Homo sapiens: one gene and its partners. The protein of the gene in region 1 purifies or fractionates together with the protein of each later gene. This does not show direct contact. Each region holds a gene or a part of one and is shown in the gene's direction. Other genes may lie near its edges.

The links. The genes of interacting proteins can lie anywhere in the genome.
Region 2: the proteins of RUNX3 (region 1) and MEX3B purify together in Homo sapiens (affinity purification with western blotting, with the first as the bait; one study listed by BioGRID). This does not show direct contact.
Region 3: the proteins of RUNX3 (region 1) and TCF7 purify together in Homo sapiens (co-immunoprecipitation; one study listed by IntAct). This does not show direct contact.
Region 4: the proteins of RUNX3 (region 1) and DZIP3 purify together in Homo sapiens (affinity purification with western blotting, with the first as the bait; one study listed by BioGRID). This does not show direct contact.

Annotation. Positions count from the first base shown.
Region 1 is NC_000001.11:24,899,277-24,902,776, reverse strand, and holds the end of RUNX3 (runt-related transcription factor 3), read left to right. Parts: intron 1-110; coding exon 111-655; 3' UTR 656-3,266; downstream 3,267-3,500. UniProt on the Homo sapiens protein: Forms the heterodimeric complex core-binding factor (CBF) with CBFB.
Region 2 is NC_000015.10:82,043,219-82,047,394, reverse strand, and holds the start of MEX3B (RNA-binding protein MEX3B), read left to right. Parts: upstream 1-1,376; 5' UTR 1,377-1,689; coding exon 1,690-1,945; intron 1,946-2,781; coding exon 2,782-4,176.
Region 3 is NC_000005.10:134,113,231-134,117,480, forward strand, and holds the start of TCF7 (transcription factor 7), read left to right. Parts: upstream 1-1,450; 5' UTR 1,451-1,676; coding exon 1,677-1,925; intron 1,926-2,090; coding exon 2,091-2,157; intron 2,158-2,382; exon of another isoform or gene 2,383-2,678; coding exon 2,679-2,803; coding exon of another isoform or gene 2,804-2,856; intron 2,857-4,250. UniProt on the Homo sapiens protein: Transcriptional activator involved in T-cell lymphocyte differentiation. Necessary for the survival of CD4(+) CD8(+) immature thymocytes. Isoforms lacking the N-terminal CTNNB1 binding domain cannot fulfill this role.
Region 4 is NC_000003.12:108,645,222-108,648,721, forward strand, and holds part of DZIP3 (E3 ubiquitin-protein ligase DZIP3), read left to right. Parts: intron 1-1,395; coding exon 1,396-1,428; intron 1,429-2,721; coding exon 2,722-2,891; coding exon of another isoform or gene 2,892-2,897; exon of another isoform or gene 2,898-3,500. UniProt on the Homo sapiens protein: E3 Ubiquitin ligase proteins mediate ubiquitination and subsequent proteasomal degradation of target proteins.

The DNA of each region.
Region 1 (3,500 bases):
CTAGGGGTCCCCCAGATGGGCCTTGGGAACCAGAGCCCAAGGTCATTCTTCAGGAAGCCCTCCTGGGGTTGTCTCGAGCTGGAACTGACCTCTTCCCTGCTGTCCTCCAGGCACCTCGGAACTGAACCCATTCTCCGACCCCCGCCAGTTTGACCGCTCCTTCCCCACGCTGCCAACCCTCACGGAGAGCCGCTTCCCAGACCCCAGGATGCATTATCCCGGGGCCATGTCAGCTGCCTTCCCCTACAGCGCCACGCCCTCGGGCACGAGCATCAGCAGCCTCAGCGTGGCGGGCATGCCGGCCACCAGCCGCTTCCACCATACCTACCTCCCGCCACCCTACCCGGGGGCCCCGCAGAACCAGAGCGGGCCCTTCCAGGCCAACCCGTCCCCCTACCACCTCTACTACGGGACATCCTCTGGCTCCTACCAGTTCTCCATGGTGGCCGGCAGCAGCAGTGGGGGCGACCGCTCACCTACCCGCATGCTGGCCTCTTGCACCAGCAGCGCTGCCTCTGTCGCCGCCGGCAACCTCATGAACCCCAGCCTGGGCGGCCAGAGTGATGGCGTGGAGGCCGACGGCAGCCACAGCAACTCACCCACGGCCCTGAGCACGCCAGGCCGCATGGATGAGGCCGTGTGGCGGCCCTACTGACCGCCCTGGTGGACTCCTCCCGCTGGAGGCGGGGACCCTAACAACCTTCAAGACCAGTGATGGGCCGGCTCCGAGGCTCCGGGCGGGAATGGGACCTGCGCTCCAGGGTGGTCTCGGTCCCAGGGTGGTCCCAGCTGGTGGGAGCCTCTGGCTGCATCTGTGCAGCCACATCCTTGTACAGAGGCATAGGTTACCACCCCCACCCCGGCCCGGGATACTGCCCCCGGCCCAGATCCTGGCCGTCTCATCCCATACTTCTGTGGGGAATCAGCCTCCTGCCACCCCCCCGGAAGGACCTCACTGTCTCCAGCTATGCCCAGTGCTGCATGGGACCCATGTCTCCTGGGACAGAGGCCATCTCTCTTCCAGAGAGAGGCAGCATTGGCCCACAGGATAAGCCTCAGGCCCTGGGAAACCTCCCGACCCCTGCACCTTCGTTGGAGCCCCTGCATCCCCTGGGTCCAGCCCCCTCTGCATTTACACAGATTTGAGTCAGAACTGGAAAGTGTCCCCCACCCCCACCACCCTCGAGCGGGGTTCCCCTCATTGTACAGATGGGGCAGGACCCAGCACGCTGCTGGCAGAGATGGTTTGAGAACACATCCAAGCCAGTCCCCCCAGCCCAGCTTCCCCTCCGTTCCTAACTGTTGGCTTTCCCCCAGCCGCACGGGTCCCAGGCCCCAGAGAAGATGAGTCTATGGCATCAGGTTCTTAAACCCAGGAAAGCACCTACAGACCGGCTCCTCCATGCACTTTACCAGCTCAACGCATCCACTCTCTGTTCTCTTGGCAGGGCGGGGGAGGGGGGATAGGAGGTCCCCTTTCCCCTAGGTGGTCTCATAATTCCATTTGTGGAGAGAACAGGAGGGCCAGATAGATAGGTCCTAGCAGAAGGCATTGAGGTGAGGGATCATTTTGGGTCAGACATCAATGTCCCTGTCCCCCCTGGGTCCAGCCAAGCTGTGCCCCATCCCCCAAGCCTCCTGGGAGGATCCAGCCAAATCTTGCGACTCCTGGCACACACCTGTCTGTAACCTGTTTTGTGCTCTGAAAGCAAATAGTCCTGAGCAAAAAAAAAAAAAAAACAAAAAAACAAAAAAAAAACAAAACAGTTTTTAAAACTGATTTTAGAAAAAGAAGCTTAATCTAACGTTTTCAAACACAAGGTCTCTTACAGGTATAGTTCCGTGATTATGATAGCTCTGTGATTATAAGCAACATCCCCGCCCCCTCTCCCCCCCGCGGACCCCCAGCTGCCTCCTGAGGGTGTGGGGTTATTAGGGTCTCAATACTTTCTCAAGGGGCTACACTCCCCATCAGGCAGCATCCCACCAGCCTGCACCACAGGCTCCCCTGGGAGGACGAGGGAAACGCTGATGAGACGCTGGGCATCTCTCCTCTGTGGCTCTAGGACATCTGTCCAGGAGGCTGGGCGGAGGTGGGCAGGATGTGAGAGGTGGGGAGTACTGGCTGTGCGTGGCAGGACAGAAGCACTGTAAAGGGCTCTCCAGCCGCAGCTCAGCTGCACTGCGTTCCGAGGTGAAGTCTTGCCCCTGAATTTTGCAAAATGGGAAAGTGGGCGCTTGCCCAAGGGCCAGGCTGCATGGATTCTCACATCAGAGTTCTCTGGCCCTAGAAAGGCTTAGAAAAGGCGTAAGGGAACTCATAAAGGCTAGCAGCATGCGGTATTTTAACTTTCTGCCTCGGCCTCTGTGGATGCAGAAATCTGCCCTACAAAATGCTCTTCATTGGTTGTCTCTGTGAGAGCACTGTCCCCACCCAACCTGTCACAACGGCCAGAACCATACACCAGAGACACACTGGCAGGTTAGGCAGTCCTTCTGGTGATCCTATTCCATTCCCTCCTGCTGCGGTTTCTCTTGGCCTGTCCTCACTGGAAAAACAGTCTCCATCTCCTCAAAATAGTTGCTGACTCCCTGCACCCAAGGGGCCTCTCCATGCCTTCTTAGGAAGCAGCTATGAATCCATTGTCCTTGTAGTTTCTTCCCTCCTGTTCTCTGGTTATAGCTGGTCCCAGGTCAGCGTGGGAGGCACCTTTGGGTTCCCAGTGCCCAGCACTTTGTAGTCTCATCCCAGATTACTAACCCTTCCTGATCCTGGAGAGGCAGGGATAGTAAATAAATTGCTCTTCCTACCCCATCCCCCATCCCCTGACAAAAAGTGACGGCAGCCGTACTGAGTCTGTAAGGCCCAAAGTGGGTACAGACAGCCTGGGCTGGTAAAAGTAGGTCCTTATTTACAAGGCTGCGTTAAAGTTGTACTAGGCAAACACACTGATGTAGGAAGCACGAGGAAAGGAAGACGTTTTGATATAGTGTTACTGTGAGCCTGTCAGTAGTGGGTACCAATCTTTTGTGACATATTGTCATGCTGAGGTGTGACACCTGCTGCACTCATCTGATGTAAAACCATCCCAGAGCTGGCGAGAGGATGGAGCTGGGTGGAAACTGCTTTGCACTATCGTTTGCTTGGTGTTTGTTTTTAACGCACAACTTGCTTGTACAGTAAACTGTCTTCTGTACTATTTAACTGTAAAATGGAATTTTGACTGATTTGTTACAATAATATAACTCTGAGATGTGTGGAAGGAGTCCAGTGCCCGGTTTCTAGGGCTATGCATGGAGGTGGGGTGGGGTGGGGGAGAGGATGGAGACCTCCTGCTGTTGCCCAGGAGGAACAGGAACAGAGACACCCAGCACCTTCATCTCCTTGCTTCCAACTTCTTCAGGAATGGCCGCAGAGACCACCCTGGCCACAGGACAGCCGGTGAGGCCTGCTCCTGTATGGCTGGGACCCCAGGAGAGCATCAAATAGGTCTTCAAAG
Region 2 (4,176 bases), on another chromosome or scaffold:
CGGCGGAGGGGGATGCGCGCGGAGAGGACCAGCGCGCACCGCCCCGGCCCGCCCCTCAAATCCTCCTTCCTTCTCTCTCGCACTCGGAGACGGTCCCTGGGAGATCCGGGAGGGGGCGCAGCTCGCCGTCCTCGCCGGCAAGTGCCGTCGCAACCTCCCTCTGCCGCCACCCCCACCCCGAGAAGCGCACAAAGAGCGGCCGGGCAGGGAGCGCTCACCTCCCGTCGGGGCGGGGCCGCGGGCGGGGCCGGCGCGCGCTCCGCAGCGCCCGCCTTAAAGGGCCCGCCCGCTCCTCGCGCGCACTGCGCATGCTCGGCCGCGGGGCACGGAGGGGAGGGATGGGAACAGCGGGCGCGCACGCCCGCGCCGCCCGCTGGCGCTGTGGCCTGCGTCCCCGCGGTGGCGGCGCGGCGCTCGTGCGCGTGTCAGAACCCGCAGGGTCTCGGCCCGGGCGCCGGGCGTGTGCTGGACACTGGTGCCATGCATTCCAGAGGTCGCCAGCGGCCGGGCGGGCCGAGCTCGCGCGGCAGCCAGCTTTTAGCTTTCCCATCCTCAGTTTCAGGGCCAGTTGGGCGAAGTGCTGCCCAAGGAGACAGAAATGCAGGCGCGGGCGCGCGCGCGCGCGGTTGCCAGTGTGGGCGGGCGTGTGCTTTTGTGTCTCGTGCGCTCCCGCGCAGGTGGACAACCCGCGCCGGGAGTCACTCTGCCCGTGCGCCCCAAGACCTGGAGTCCCGTTTTCCGTGTCGGAGGGCTCGGGTCGCCCTTTTGGGCGGACTACAGACTCTTCTCACAGAGGAAGCTTTGGCTCCACGGATGGTTTATTTGGAGCCACTAACGGGACTTCCTGAGGACCGCTCTTTTAGAGCCCGGCTCCAGGCATCAGAGTTGGGCGCGTTTTCTTTTCTCAGTCAGGCGAGGGAGGAGACTTAGGGACAATGATTGTCCTCGGCTGATAGGTACATCCAAGTGTCCCGAGCCTGCCAGTCCCGCATTAGACAACAAAGAGAGGCGTTAGCGGCGGCGGGGGAGGGGCGCGGCCGGGAGGAGGACGGGGCGGGCTGCGGCGAGCGCGGGGGTGGGGGGTGGCGCTCTCTCTCCGCTCGCTCAACCCGCGGCCTCCTCCCGCCCCCGGCCTGGCGCGCGCCAATCGCCTCCCCCAGCGATAGTGTCAGTAGCATTGTGGTGTCAGCTCCCGCCTGTGACGTTGCGCCTCCCTCGTCCCCCTCCGGAGTCGTCTGGCTGCAGAGGCTCAGTCAAGAGGCGGGGAGGAGAGGAGGAAAAAGCGCTGAGTGAGGGCGGGCGGGCGGGCGGGAGGGAGGGAGTGGAGGAGCCGGGGAGGGGCTCCTTAAAGAAACGCTTCTGTCGCTCGCCTGCTCGCTTTTCGCTCGGCATTGCGGCCAGCCAGCCGGGCACTCGGGGGGCACGCGCGGCCACCGCTAGAGCTCTGCCCCCACCCCACCCGCCAGCAGGTCTGGGGTGGGGACCCAGGTGGGGGCTCCTGCAGCCACTGCCCGGTGCGGACCGCACGGAGCGACCCACTCCTCCCAGCACCGAGGAAGAAGCAACGGAGCCCTCAGCAGGCGACCGGCCTCCCCGCCCCTGACCACCCGCTTCCCGGCTGCCTTTGTGGCCGCAGCTTCTCGCCGCCGAGCCGAGGGCCGGCGGGGGCGCGGCGCGCACGGCCGAGCGATGCCCAGCTCGCTGTTCGCAGACCTGGAGCGCAACGGCAGCGGCGGCGGCGGCGGCGGCAGCAGCGGAGGGGGAGAGACCCTGGATGACCAAAGAGCCCTGCAGCTCGCGCTCGACCAGCTCTCCCTGCTGGGGCTGGACAGTGACGAGGGCGCCTCTCTGTACGACAGCGAGCCGCGCAAGAAGAGCGTGAACATGACCGAGTGCGTGCCAGTACCCAGTTCTGAGCATGTCGCCGAGATCGTGGGGCGGCAAGGTAGGTCGAGGAGGGATGGGGAGGTGGGTGGGGGTGGTGTAGGGTCTCAGGCCACTGCCTCGAGGGGAAGGCGTGTTCAGTATCGGGATCCGCGGCGTGGGGTGCCTTGGGGAGAGAGGAAGAGCCGCGCGATGGGCCGGCGCCCCAGACAAAGAAAGTGCAGGCAGGCTGTCTCCCGGAGCCGCGCCGCTGCCCTGGCGGGATGCACTTTCTTCTGCTAAAATCACTGCCTTCTCCCCTAACGCCCCCCAACCAGCCCACCTCCAGAAAGACAATTTAAATGTAAGATGCTTGGGGGAGGGGGCCTTTGATCAGTCCTTTGGGAGGAGGAAGGAGGAGGAGTGAGCATAGGATGGGAGGAGGATTCTGGATTTCTGCAAAGCGGAATGGAGCCCAGAGGAGGAACAATGGGTCCCGGGACTCACACCCCACCCCCTACCCCCAGTCGACCAGCGCTGAGGCATCGCGACTTCAGCTGCCTTCCCCGAGCCCCTTCCCCGTGTCTTCAGAGCTGACGGCGCGCCCAGCTGGATCCCAGCGGCATCTCCCCAGATGACTTTTCTGGGATTCTCGGGTTTGGTTCGGGACGACTGCAGTCACTGGGGGAGGGCCAGGCAGCCAATGGGCTGTTCCTCGAGCGCCTCGCGGGTGGGATCCGCTGCCCAGCCCGTGGCGCGGCCCGAGGTCAGTGAGGGAGACGCCCCCTTTCCGCCCATCTCTTGTCCTGCCGTCTCGCTGTCCTGGACGCGGGCTGTCCCCGGTCCCCGCGGTTACCCCAGGATAATGGGCGTGTCTGTCTCTCTCTCCCACTCCCTCCTCCGCACCCTGGTTCGTAGGTTGTAAAATCAAAGCGCTGCGGGCGAAGACCAATACTTACATCAAGACCCCAGTTCGCGGGGAGGAGCCTGTCTTTGTTGTGACGGGCAGGAAGGAGGATGTGGCCATGGCTCGGAGGGAGATCATCTCTGCTGCCGAGCACTTCTCCATGATCCGCGCCTCCCGGAATAAGAACACGGCACTCAACGGCGCGGTGCCTGGGCCGCCCAACCTGCCCGGGCAGACCACCATCCAAGTGCGGGTACCCTACCGCGTGGTGGGGCTCGTGGTGGGGCCCAAAGGCGCCACAATCAAGCGCATCCAGCAGCAGACGCACACGTACATCGTGACGCCCAGCCGGGATAAGGAGCCGGTGTTCGAGGTGACCGGCATGCCAGAGAACGTGGATCGCGCTCGAGAGGAGATTGAGGCGCACATTGCTCTGCGTACCGGCGGCATCATTGAGCTCACAGACGAGAACGACTTCCACGCCAACGGCACCGATGTGGGCTTCGATCTGCATCATGGGTCCGGCGGGTCCGGCCCAGGCAGCCTCTGGAGCAAGCCCACCCCCAGCATCACGCCCACCCCCGGCCGCAAGCCTTTCTCTAGCTACCGCAACGACAGCTCCAGCTCGCTTGGCAGTGCTTCCACAGACTCTTATTTCGGCGGCGGGACCAGCAGCAGCGCAGCGGCTACCCAGCGCCTGGCGGACTACAGCCCCCCTAGCCCCGCCCTGAGCTTTGCGCACAACGGAAACAATAACAATAACGGCAATGGGTACACCTACACAGCGGGGGGAGAAGCCTCAGTGCCATCCCCCGACGGCTGCCCCGAGCTGCAGCCCACTTTTGACCCGGCTCCCGCTCCCCCACCTGGGGCACCACTTATCTGGGCCCAGTTCGAGCGGTCCCCGGGAGGCGGACCTGCAGCTCCGGTATCTTCTTCCTGCTCTTCTTCTGCATCTTCGTCTGCTTCTTCCTCCTCCGTGGTCTTCCCCGGGGGTGGCGCCAGTGCGCCCTCCAACGCCAACCTGGGGCTATTGGTGCACCGCCGGCTGCACCCTGGCACCAGCTGCCCGCGCCTGTCTCCACCCTTGCACATGGCCCCGGGGGCGGGAGAGCACCACCTGGCTCGCCGGGTGCGCAGCGACCCGGGTGGAGGAGGCCTGGCCTACGCCGCTTATGCCAACGGGCTGGGGGCACAGCTGCCTGGCTTGCAGCCGTCGGACACGTCGGGCTCCTCCTCTTCGTCCAGCTCCTCCTCCAGCTCTTCATCCTCTTCCTCCGGGCTTCGGCGTAAAGGCAGCCGCGACTGCTCCGTGTGCTTCGAGAGCGAAGTGATTGCCGCGCTGGTGCCCTGTGGCCACAACCTCTTCTGCATGGAGTGCGCCAATCGCATCTGTGAGAAGAGCG
Region 3 (4,250 bases), on another chromosome or scaffold:
GCTGAGCACTCGTGCCCATGCCACCCCCCAGCCCCAGCCTGGGGAAAGGAGGAAAAGTGGGCACCCTAGCCCGGAGGTGGCGGGGGAGGGGGGTGTGGGGGCTGGTGTCCGAGACACCCGGCTGGGCGGGCACAGATAGGATCTGAACACAGGGAAGCATGGCCTAGCTCTTTGATCCACAGCCAGCCACGCTGGGCCTGGACCCGGAGGGAGGCACGGCTGTCTTCCGGCCCGGCTTTGCACCGCTGCCAGGGGTCCTGTGGGGCCCTCAGAGGGAGAGGCGTCCAATACCCGGCCCTCCCCCAAATACCCTCTATCCCAACTGCTCTCAGAAGAGGCGTGAGCGTCTACAGTGAACCCAGCACAGAAACCTGCTAGGGGAGCTGCTGTTGACTGCATCGCGATCCAAAGGACCGGCGTCTTTTGTAGATGCAGGGGCTGAGCCAGGCCAAGCGCGCCGTGGAGGCCCGCGTGGACGCAGACCCGGGTGCCATACAGATGCGCTGGAATCCAGGCACTTTCCCGCGCTCCGCAAATCTAGATGTTTCAGCCTGGATCGAGCGAGGGTTAGAGGGTTAGTCAGGCCAGGGTCAACTTCAGAGTCATGGGCTCCCTAAATGCGACTTCTAGGGTTGAGTTGCTGTGGACGAGCGACCCATGTCGGAATCCCGCGCCCACGTGGCTGCCCAAAGTTCCGAGTCTCCGGGCTGCAGGTTCTAGTCACGGAACCGAGTTGGGAGAGTCATAGGGGCTGGGACTTGGAGGATCGGCTGAGGTCCGGTGCTCTTGGCTGTGTTCGCGGCTCGGAGCCGTCGCCTGACTGAGGGGCCCGTCACAGATGTGTGATGTATAAGCTCTGCACGCAACAGGAGCTCAATAAATGTGCGAAGGGGGGTATACTTATGTTCGCACTGTATGCAGGCGGCCTAGAAGGAAGTCCCTGATTGGCACAGGGATGGAGGATGGGGCAAGAGCCGCAACAGCGCCGCGGAGTTCCAACGCTGCCGGTTCCCTGGGGTACGAGCACAGCCTCAAGCAGCCTCAAGCCCTAGGAAGCCCCCAGTTCAAAGCACAGGGCGCATTGGAGCCTGGGCACGATACAGTTCACACCACGGCTGCGATGGTAAGCCACGCCCAAGTCCCAAGGGCCTAGGGGACCCCCGCCCTCCACAGCCGGAGGAGAAACCTGGGCGCAGAAAGCAGGGGGAATATCTGGTTGTAGGTGAGTAAGCGGGGTCAGGAGTTCCCGTTAGAGTCTCTGCGTTTCGGGAGAAGGGTGATCATTCCCAGGCTTGTCCGACGTCTCTCTCAGGGTGCGCTCCGGAAGAGCGAGCCCTTTAAGGCTATGCCGAGTGGGCGCGTCCCGGCCTCTCCCGGGAGAGGAGAGGCGGGGCGGACCTGTGTCCCGCCCCCGGCCCGGCCCGCCCCCAGTGCCCGCCCCGCCCCCGGCACTCGGCCGGCGGCGCCTTTGATGTTCCGACCCGCCAGCTCGCGGAGCCGCTCTGCCCCGCGCCCTAGCCCGCGCCTGCAGCCCGCCCAGGCGGAGTCAGCCCGCGCTCCGCCCGCCGCGATCCGAGCTCGGAGGTTCGGACTCCGGGCTCGCCGCCCCCCGGGCCGGCTCCGCGCCCCGCACTCCCGGCGCCCAGCGCCCCGCGCCCCGGCGGGCGGAGCGCACCATGCCGCAGCTGGACTCCGGCGGGGGCGGCGCGGGCGGCGGCGACGACCTCGGCGCGCCGGACGAGCTGCTGGCCTTCCAGGATGAAGGCGAGGAGCAGGACGACAAGAGCCGCGACAGCGCCGCCGGTCCCGAGCGCGACCTGGCCGAGCTCAAGTCGTCGCTCGTGAACGAGTCCGAGGGCGCGGCCGGCGGCGCAGGGATCCCGGGGGTCCCGGGGGCCGGCGCCGGGGCCCGCGGCGAGGCCGAGGTGAGCCCCCGCCGGCGCCGGCTCCTCCCCCGCGGTCGCCGCGCCGCGCCGCCCCAGTTGCGCGCGGCCCTCGGGGTCTCCAGCGCGCAGAGCGTCCCTGCCCCGGCGTCGGCCCCGACCCCCGCGGTCCCACCGCCCCTCACTCCCCTCCGGTTCTCCCTCCAGGCTCTCGGGCGGGAACACGCTGCGCAGAGACTCTTCCCGGACAAACTTCCAGAGCCCCTGGAGGACGGTGAGTTTCTGCCCGGCCCGGCTTCCCTTCGTCGCGCTCAGGCCCTGGCCTCGGTGGGACGGGGACGCCAAGGACCGCGGGGAGCCGGGTGCCTCCCCCACCGCAGCTCAGGAGGCGGCAGAACCCAGGGGTGGAGAGTGGGGGGCGGGCTTCCCGGGCGCCGCCGGGTCGAGTCACTTCCGGTGCCCTGACCTTTATAGGAGTAAACAGACCCCCGCCATCCCCGCCTCCCCTCCTGCCCAGGTGACTGACTAATCCGCCGCCTTCAGGAGACAGAATTGGCCAAGGTTTCTTGGTTGGAGGGCGGGGGGTGGGAGGTCAAGTAGGGGCCACCTCGGGGAGGCCTGCCCTCCAGGTCCTTCCCCTAAAACTTGGCACTGCCGATACTCCCAGCCCGTTCCTTCCCAAGTCAGGAACTTGCAGGGGACCCCTTGGCAATTCTTTTTCTCTCAAGAGCAGACAGCCTTCAGTCCCAGCCGCTGCCAGGGCTGGTGTGTCTGACCCAGCTGTGGTTTTTCCAGGCCTGAAGGCCCCGGAGTGCACCAGCGGCATGTACAAAGAGACCGTCTACTCCGCCTTCAATCTGCTCATGCATTACCCACCCCCCTCGGGAGCAGGGCAGCACCCCCAGCCGCAGCCCCCGCTGGTAAGTGGACCCCGCAGCCAGTGCCGCCCTGTGCTTGCAGCCTCCTTGACCAGGTAGGTGAGGCACCGGCAAGAGACTTCTGCCTGGAACAAAATAGACGAGACTCCTGTGCTGGTCTTTTCTCCCATACACACCCGGTGGGATCTGAACCAAAAGGAGAACTTTGCTGAAGGAAGGAGGGGCCGCCCTGGGGCACCCCCCTGCCCTCTGCCTCTTGGCTTTTGTCTTCCCAGCTTGCTCATAAGCAGGTGCAGGCTCTGTCCTGGTGCTGGGTGATGCCAGGGTGGGGTCTTCTTAGAGAACTTTTGAGCCGAGACCACCCTTGCTCCTCGCTGCTCTGATCTGAGCTCAGAGCTTTGCAATTAACTTTCTAACTAGCCCAGGAAACCCTGAGCCTCCTTGGCGCTTGGAGGAATGGGCAGGAAAGCTGATCTGTTCAGGTCCCCTGGTTGTGCAGGAGAAACGTGCTGTGTTCGGTCGGCTGTGTCCTGACGGGCGTGAGTGTACCGTTGCCAAAGAAGGACCCTGAACACCATGTGTGGAAAGTGGGTTCTTAGGAAACTGGCTTGGTCTCAGACATACCAGGAAGGGTTGGCAAAGGTGCTACAAATCAGTGATGTTGAGAAGGGACCAGTTTAATTAATTCGTGAATTAAATATTTTTAAGTCCCAGTGCTTTGAAAAGATTTCATGATCTTTACAAACCATGCCCATTGGTACAGATGACCTAAAGTGTGAAGAGCCTATTCTGAGTGTTTTGGAGCAGTACAGCTGCGCTTTTAAAGAAATTCCTATTCGTGTTTCACACTCTCCTCAGTTGGTCCAAGTTGGGGTGAAGGTACGTGGAAGGTTTGGAGGACTGTGGTAAGTGAGTGTTGGGTGTGAATGTAAGCCCAGTGCAGGTGGGGCTGGCAGGCTGGAGGCTCGCATGGCTACAGTGGGGTCACCAGAGGGAGGAGAGTTAAGTGCTAGGCTATTTCAGACCAGGAGTGAAGAGGGTGGTTCTGAGAGCTGCTGCATGCCAAGCCAGTGGGAATGAGAAGACATATAGGCTTCTTTCCAGAAGCCTAGGCTGGAAAGCCTATTCTATGGCTAGCTCTAGAAATGAGCTCCTTGCCCTTTGGGCCCTTATCTGTAAAATGAGTATGTTTTTCGAGTAGTCTCTGTATCCGACTTTCTGCTCTGGGGTGGCTTGGTATATGAGGTGGTTCACTTCCTTCCAAGTCTGTGAGATGGGGGGTGTGCCCCCCAGCATTCCCCCGCTGATGTAGTGACTACATCCAGAGAACTCACCCTGTGTGAGCCCATGCTTAACAAAGATGCGTTTTGGATCCCTACAAGATGTAAATAAACCCTTAGATTTGGGACTAGGTTGACATAACCCACCAGTGCCAAACTTCCAACAGGTGTGCCACTTGCATAGGGGCTGGGGTCACCGTGGAACCATG
Region 4 (3,500 bases), on another chromosome or scaffold:
AATTGTTGAAGACTTTTGAGTACAGTTTTATCACTTTAAGTGGAGTTTTATTCTCCAAAATTAATAAAGTTTAAAACCATGACATGTAAGTACTGTGTGGTTTCAAAGATGTTCGTTTAGACACAGTGTGGATGTATGTTTCTTCTACTTTCTAGCAGAATCTTGTTTAGTTTACAATTTTAGCAGCTATTCATTGGCTGTAGATAATTTTAAAAATCAGGTAACATTCATGCAAGTGTTTGTATTGGCCACTCCCAAACTTGTCTATTGATACGGAAAAGACTTCAGACCTCCTTTCCCACATCTCAGGATACCTTCTCAGCTATTCTTTTGGAAAGCAGAGTTCAAGGCATGACAACATCTCTGAAACCCTGCTGTGCTATTCAGGATGACTTCCTGGTCTCAAGTTATTTACAGCCTAATGAACAACTGATAACCACACTGATGCTATATAAACATACAACTGTAAAAGTTTCTAGTGAACTGGTCCAGATTTTCTTCAGAGATAATTGATGTGCCCAATTTCAGTCCTGGTATTTACTAAGGCTCTGGAATACCTTTGTTTTCTTGCATAATCTAAGAATGAAAGAGGAGGACACTGAGTTTGATATATAAGAAAGTCAGGCAAGAATTTTTGACTTATAAATTAGGGTTTTAAAAAATACATTTACTCTATTAGGATTTTAAATAATTCATGAGAATAGAGTATTTGAGAAAGAGTTTTGAGCACCCATTCAATTCAAAGCATTTTAAGCAGTTCTTACTCAAGTACACTGAAGAGCTTATTGGTCAAGTCCCTTTACTAGAGGCTTTCTTACCATCTTATATTTCTTTCCTCAGCTATTCTAGTTGCTTTTTATTTGGATATCTGATAATTTGATTAACATCCATCATCCCACTAAATCTCCATGAAGATTGTCTTTTTTTTTCTTCACCATTCAATCTCTAGAGCTTAACACAGCCTGATGTACATTGTAGGTGCTCAATAAATATTAATGGGCAAGGAGAGCAAGTGATGATCAGATAAATCAGATTGCTAAAAATAGGTCCCAACTTTCAGTGGAGGTTTGCTGTGTAATTAACTATTATTTCATGGCCTTAGATGGTAAACATAAATATTCGTTGCTTGGTTTAAAGTGCTTGTGTTCTAGGCTTTATCTGTGATACCACATTTTTGTTTACTTTTTTTTCTCTAATCATGGGTTTATAACCTTTATGTGATAATCTAAAGATTGTGCCTTGTCTAAACTGGATTGATGAGCAAAGCTGGTTATTTTTCCAGTTACTTACAGAATAAATTGGTGCAATATAAAAATATTCTGCCTTAATCCTAGCCAGACATTCATTTGTTGCGTTTGCAATTGTACATCTAAAATTTTTCTTTATGTATTATAGGAATTGCTCTACAGTCAATAACAGGCAGTCAGCGTAAGTATATTTAGAAATAAAATGTGTAAATGACTTTTTAACAAGGGATACCTATGAAATTTTTATTTGTTCAGATAAACTAAATGATAAACTATAATTGTGAAGAACTTGGGCCAGGCGCAGTGGCTCACGCCTATAATCCCTGTACTTTGGGAGGCTGAGGCAGGTGGATCACAAGGTCAGGAGATCGAGACCATCTTGGCCAACATGGTGAAACCCCGTCTCTACTAAAAATACAAAAATTAGCCAGGTGTGGTGGCGGGTGCCTGTAGTCCCAGCTACTCAAGAGGCTGAGGCAGGAAAATTGCTTGAACATGGAAGGCAGAGGTTGCAGTGAGCCAAGATCACGCCACTGCATTCCAGCCTGGGCGACAGAGCGAGATTCAGTCTCAAAAAAAAAGAACTTGGAAAATGATGTGATCAAATCACCACTGGTCTGGCTGAATCGAGAATGAGCTTTATTCTGCCTTTGGCTTAGTGCATGTGCTTCAGGGTTTTCCCAAGGATGATGTTCTAACGTTTTACTCACAAAAACTTCAGCAGGCAAAAATACCTTCCTGCTTTCTCTGTTTGGTGTTTAGCGTGTATAACTTTATTTAGTCTGTCTATTGTTTATAGCTATATACTTTTTTTGCCAGGTGATAAGTTGTAATTGTTTAATTTCCATTTTTGTGCTATTTTTTTTAAGTGTAATTAATATTATTCAATTAAAATTATACTTAAAAAAAACACCACCACAGATTTGTTTGGGATAAAATGCTGGACTCTCTGGAGACCAGTCAGACAAAGTCCACAAGTTTTGAGACTGAGTCTCTGGGGCAATATCAAGGAGCAAAGTCTCAAAGAAAAGGTCACATAATAGGGGGCTCACACCCCTCTTATGAAAAAGAAAACAGAAAAAATAGATCTTTTGTCTTCTTTTTCTTTATATTTCAGATATATGTGCTAAAATAATACTAGTTGCATTATTAATAGGATCAAGGTCAGGACATGCAAAAAGTTAGTATTTAGAGTCTACTTATGTTCTAGAGTATCTAATATCTAGAGTCTACCTAAGATTCCAGTAGGTAACATAGCACTCAGGTTCACACTGATTAGTTCCAGGCTGGTGTTTGTACATATTATTTGGTAACTGATAAATGAACATCACATTTTCATCGAGTAATTGAAAAGAGTAAGATATATTTTATTTCTGTTTTGTGAATGTTGCTTTTTTGGGCAAACATTATAACATTGATAAGAAGCTGAAATTGCTTTCATCTAGATTTTGAGAATTTTGTCTTTTATGTTTAGGTATTGAAATAGAAGAGTTACAGAATGAGGAAGAAGAACTAAGTCCACCTCTCATGGAGTACAATATAAATGTGAAATCACACCCTGAGATACAGTTTGCAGAAATTAATAAAGATGGGACCTCAATACCCAGTGAATCTTCAACAGAATCTCTTAAAGATCTCCAGGAAGTATAAGCTCTCATTAATATTTGAGTTAGAAGAACTTATTCTGGGCCTTTAATTTGTTGCATGTGCTGTACTTAAAGCATCCCAGATAATTTTAGCTTATATTTTCATAGTGTTTATACAGAGCTTGAATTGGAATGGTCCTTTCCTTCCTTGCCTCAGTACTTCCTTCCATAATCTTTCCTGCCATAACCATTTATTTTGCCACCATTTCTTAAACACTTATGTGGCAGGCATTATGCTAGACTGTAATATGTTTTTTTAATCCCAGTTGAAGTGGATGTGGGAAGGTATTAGAAAGTAGAAGAAAGTATAGTCTAAAATAGAGAGGAAAGAAAGGAAGAGAAAAGTGGGATATTTCAAAACCATTTGCGCAGAGGTAGAATGAAATTCGTCCAGAATGGAATCTCCGTATTTCTTTACAAATAAGTGGTAACAGTTATTATATAGTCACTAAATTATCCTTAGATCTTTCATCTTATAGGCATGAATATGTTGCTTTTTAAAAAGTGTCTTCCTCCTTTGTTACATCCATGTGTGTAAGTGAGCATCTGTGAACTTTTATCAGTAACCTACTTATTGACATTATGTGTTGTTCCTTTATTCATCAGT